Regions from separate parts of the Homo sapiens genome. Here region 2 is linked to region 1. A link means that fine-mapping ties the variant in region 1 to the expression of a gene that starts in the linked region. Tissue or cell type: blood mononuclear cells. Region 1 holds a variant in brackets; the other region holds the start of a gene. All regions are shown on one strand. Distances are between the middles of the regions.

Evidence for each region. PIP is the estimated chance that this variant, and not a neighbour inherited with it, causes the effect.
Region 2: FN1 starts here. The variant in region 1 is fine-mapped to the expression of FN1 in blood mononuclear cells (TOPMed, PIP above 0.99). The same link has a PIP of 0.9 or more in T cells and monocytes.

What each region holds. Positions count from the first base shown.
Region 1 is chr2:215,676,506-215,679,267 of GRCh38, forward strand. The region is part of intron 5 of LINC00607 (long intergenic non-protein coding RNA 607); the gene reads right to left. It overlaps LOC102724861 (a long non-coding RNA gene), which reads left to right. Exons shown (of 8, transcript NR_187737.1): 5 at 1,439-1,701. Among named protein-coding and RNA genes, the nearest start is that of LINC01614, 40 kb to the right of the region's middle. The variant T/C (reference allele first, on the strand shown) is at 1,185.
Region 2 is chr2:215,434,850-215,437,349 of GRCh38, forward strand. FN1 (fibronectin 1) reads right to left here and starts at 1,219. Exons shown (of 46, transcript NM_212482.4): 1 at 806-1,219. The coding sequence starts at 953. FN1-DT (FN1 divergent transcript) reads left to right here and starts at 842. Exons shown (of 2, transcript NR_187198.1): 1 at 842-1,460; 2 at 2,070-2,500. RefSeq lists silencers at 1,243-1,302, 1,313-1,402.

The DNA.
Region 1 (2,762 bases):
GTCTCTCTCTCTCTCTCTGTAGAGACGGGGTCTCACTCTGTTACCCAGGCTAGAATATAGTGGCACAATTATAGCTCAGAGTAACCTCAAACTCCTGGCCTCAGATGACCCTCCTCAGCCTCCCAAATAGCTAGGTCTACAAGTGTGCACCACCATGCCTGGCTAATTTTTTTAATATTATTTTTTGTAGAGTCAGAGTCTCCCTATGTTGCCCAGGCTAGTTTCGAACTCCTGGCCTCAAGTGATCCTCCTGCCTCAGCCTCCCAAAGTGCTGGCATCACAGGTGTGAGTCACCACACCTGGCCTCATATCTCTTTTTAAAAAATAATGCTCTAAACAGATAAAGCCATTATAGCCTGCTGTCTATTTGCAGAACAGGTTAAAAATATTTAAAAGAACATTGGCATAACACTCAACTTGTTTAAAAATCTATAATAACTACGGTTTAAATGAAAATAAAAACAGCTAAGTATCAGTCTCAATTTTCTATCTATGGTTCACAAGCCTAGTTATACATTAAATCATCTTAGGAGTTTTAAAAAATATTCATGTCAAGATCCCACTCTAATTTAATTGTTAGCCCTAAGGTGGGTTCCATTCTCTGATTCTCTCTCTCTCTCTCTCACTGCATAATAACCTTTGTTTATACAATGTCTTGATAGTACCACGTCTTTCTTTTTCCACTCCTAAAATGGCCATTAAACTCAATTATAGAAAGATTATTTTACTAACAATTGAGCAAGGGGCATGTTCAGAGCAAACCCTTTTTTTCCCAAAAAGGCCCATACAAAAATATGTGTATAACTAATGATAAATCCATCACTAGAAAAACATGTAGCTTCATTTCTTTACATCAGAAAACCCCAAGCAGTAGAGCCTGCTTGCTGATGAAGTGGATCCTCAGTAGAACCAGGCACCCACCTCCATGGCTGACTTTCATTGGCTCTGCGCAGCGCTTTATCAATAGCACCCTTTCTGTTCCTATCTCCTCCCCTCTCCTATCCTGCTCTACCTCCATCCAGTGACTCAAGTGTTAAGGGAAATTAGAAGGAGCATGTTTCCAAAAAGGGTAAAAGCAGTAAATTTATATGAAAGACAGCATGTCATCAGCATTGCCAAAAAAAAAAAAAAACAAAAAAAAACCTCAAAATAGCAGATGGGTTGGCCAAAATAAAAAATATACC[T/C]AATTGTTGGGTGTCATGTAAAACTTCCGGAATGTCTGAGGTTTTCTTATCCCTGCCTTTTCGAAATTTTGGTTTCCTGCAGGGTATTTCTCTTGCTTTTCAGCATTCTCATAACTTCCTTTGGCAACTTCCAGATTTCTTTTTTAATTATGTGTGTGTGTGTGTGTATGTGTGTGTGTGTGTGTGTGTGTGTGTGTGTATATATGTGTATATATATATATATGACTTGCAGTGACTGCTTTCCCTTTTCACAGAAACAAGTCAACATTTTGATTTCAAACATCAAAAAAGGTGTCCAGAAATCTCAAGAATTTGAGACATCCTAAGGAACTTTAAGTGCTGTGAGCCACAAGTAACATCAAGAAAAGACAGGGATGAAGAACCGCACTTACAAGCTAAGTAAGATTAAACCCAGCATGGAGATATATGAATTAATATGAACTCTGAGAAAGAAATTGGTCAGCTAAAAAATATATGGCTTTCCTGAATAGACAAAAGAACAAAGATTTTCCCTTTGGTATGTAACCTGTTTCATTTAGTCACTTATATTTTCTCTGAGTGTGAGATAAATGTTATGAAAAAATTTGTTTTGATTATGCAAGAGAGGATTGTTTACCTAGTCAGGTCAAAACTGGAAAAAAGAACTGCTGCTTCATTATACATCCCCCACAACTTCATAGAAAGTGATTTTAAAAAGAGGAAAACCAAAGATTTATAGAGTTGGGTGCCCATCTTCATGGCTGACTTTCATTGGATATATATATAAAATAAGTATGAACATTAAAGTTCATCTAGCACCCCCCCCAAAAAAAAACTGGATAGACATTTTTCAAAAGAAGACATACAATGGCCAACAGGTATATGAAAAAATGCTCAACATCACTGCTGATCAGAAAAATGCAAATTAAAACACAATGAAATATTATCTCACACCTGTTAGAATGGCTATTATCAGAATGATGAATGATAACAAGTGCTAGTGAAACTGTGAAAAAAAAAAGGAAACCCTGTATATTGTTGGTGGGAATGTAAATTACTACAGCTGTTATTAAAAACTGTATTAGGGTTCCTCAAAAAATTAAAATTAGAACTACCATATGACCCAGCAATTCCATTTCTGATTATATATCCAAAGGAAATGAAAACAATATGTCAGAGAGATACCTGCTCTTCCAAGTTCATTGCAGAGCTATTCACAATAGCTAAGATTTTGTATCAACCTAAGTGTCCATCAACAAATAAATGGATAAAGAAAATGTGGTATTTAAATGAGAATTAATAAGACCTAGTATTTGATAGTACAACAGGGTGACTATAGTAAAAAATAATTTAGTTGTACATTTAAAAATAACTAAAAGAGTATAATTAGATTGTTTATAACACAAAGGCTTGAGGTAATGGATACTCCATTTACCCTGATGTGATCACTATGCATTGCATTCCTGTATCAAAATATCTCATATACCCCATAAATAAACACACCTACTCTACTATGTACACACAAAAATTAAAAATTAAAAGAATATGCCCTATTTAAAAAAAAGAAAGAAAACGTAGTATTTAGACATAATGGAATAT
Region 2 (2,500 bases), 240 kb before region 1:
ACATTTGCATTTCTCCTTTTCCCAAAATTATGGAATTTTCTTCATGTGAATATTGACGTACATATTTTTTTCCTTTTAACTTTGCTAAAAGTTATATACAATGATGTCATTTCCATCTGGCCAGGGGTCTACATAAAAAAGTTGGAAACATTTTGGAAGGCAGACAATTGAAGTCACATTTTTAAAACATGCAAGGAACTTAAATATTCTTTTGGAGTAATAGTCAAAAAGGACAACTTTAAGCAGCTTTCTCAAAGCAAAAGGAGGGTGTGTCTTTGAAAAACGGAAAGAATTCCAACCTCTGTTCTTGGTGAAGTATCCTGAGCGGCCCTAAAGAGGTCTGAACCAATTACATCTCTTCCAAGTTAGTTAGAAACAAGACAGCTATTTCAATACCCCCTTTCCACCCCCATGTTGAAAATATTTGACCAATTATTTAACAGAAGGAAATAAGTAGCAGTAAGGACCACACTAATCCCAGACGGAAAATTTATAGACATGCATCATTTTTCTCTTTAAAGGCAAGTTTTGGTTAATTCCTAGAAGGACAATCTGAACGTGCAGAATTTATTAGAACACGGGAAAGTCGCAGAGTCCTCGTCCTCCAATGCACGGTCTTATCATCCCAGGCCCTCAGAACCAGCGTGCTCAAAACTCGGTCCTTTTGTGTGCACAGCTGGTTTCTCTCAGTAAAGCGCGCACACACTCGCACACACGCGCGCGCACAAAACTTCAGCCCCAACTTTGGTCGGCTTTAGGGTCCCATCCCTGAGGCAGCCTGTTTCAGCCCGCGGTCAGTACTCACGCTTGCTTTGACTGACAGCCACCGGGGACTGGGGCTGAACCATTTGCTGAGCCTGCCTCTTGCTCTTCGAGGCTCCCGTGGAGGGCACCGCTGTCCCCAGGCACTGGACGGCCAGCAGCAGCAGCCCGGGCCCCGGACCCCTAAGCATGTTGAGACGGTGGGGGAGAGACGCCCGCACCGGGAGGCAAGTTGCCACCAAGTTTGCTTCCCTTCGCAACCTGCGGGAAAAATCCCTTCTAATGCCTCCCGGGGGTTGTCGCCTCCAAGAAGGTGGGGGCCAGAGGGTGGGGAAGGGGACGGGTGGAGGGACAGAAGGGATGCAGAGGACCAGAGAAGTTGTGGCTGCAGGTCCCCTCTTCCCGCTCGCGCCTGGGGTTCCCTCTCCTCCCCCTGTGCAGCACAGCCGGCGCGGGCGTCCGAGCGCCGGGAGCCGGGGCTTATATGGGACGGTCCCCTCCCGCCCCTCTGGAGGCCCGGGGCGCGGGGGAGGAGAGACCCGCCGGGCTGTCCCCGCCCCGCCCCACCCCACCCGCCCGCCCGCCCGCCGGCCGCCGCAGCCGACCGCGCGCCGATTGGCCCGGGCTCCGGGTGACGTCACGGGGGACTGTGGGTTCGCAGCGAACAAAAGAGATGCTGATGGCCCGCCAGGACTGGGGCAAGACAACTTTTTTTCGGTTTCCTTTGCGGTCATCAAACTTTTTAGGGGATGGGGGAAGGGATGGGAAGCGGCTGGGAGGAAAGGGAGTGGCTGGACTTGTGTGAAGCGAAGGGGTTGCAAGACGCTCCCCCTTCCCTTTTCTTTTTTATTGGGGGTGGTGGTAGTGTTTGAGGACATTGCGTCACCTCTCTTCGGGGTGGAGGGGGGGAATCTCTGCTTATAGGAGTGTATTTTGTGAGGAAGAAAACCCATAAAATATCCACGACCTTGCAGCTGTTAAGAATCCAGACTTTTCAGTCCCAGGGCGGGGCTGCCTTTCCCCCCATCCCGCTCCCTTTCTTTGGACTAAAGGGTACTGACTCGGGACTCCCTTATTTTGTCTTCACAGCTCCCTGTTCGGACTTCTTCCCTTCTCAGCGCTGTGCCTGTCTGGCTCTGAGAAAGGGCCAGCGGGCGAACGGGGAGCAAAGGGGAACAGAGACCTTTAATGAGCTTCTACTAAGTACCGGGAGTTCCGCGGGGCGCTTTGCAGATCCCGGGGAAGTTCAGAGAATGAAGTTTTCTTTTGCAAGGACAAAGTAACAGTTTACTTTTTTACACATGCAGGAAAGCCTTCCTTTCCTGGGGATGGGACGCCCGTTTCCACTGAAAGTGAAATCACTGTGAACAACCTGAAAATTGGAAAGTTGGACCAGCTGTGGGGAGAGAAAGGTCTTCGTGTCCTTTCCCACGTTCACCGTGCCAGTTACACACAAAGCAGAGATTTTTTTGCTTGAATCATTAAAAGCCGGGTGGGTGGGGGGCACCCTATGTACTGTCTTGCCCTCCTTCGGCCCCTTTCTCACATTTATTTGCCATTTTCTTTTTGCTGACAAGTTCCATTACAGAATGCCCCCTCCATCCCCCGCCGCCAGATTTTTTATATTTCAATTGTTATTTACTCCAAGAGTGTGGAAAGTTCTCCTTTAAGATTCCCCCGCCTTGAACTCTAAACTCAGAGTGGAAAGGGAATCTGAAAAGTCTCTCATTTAGCAACA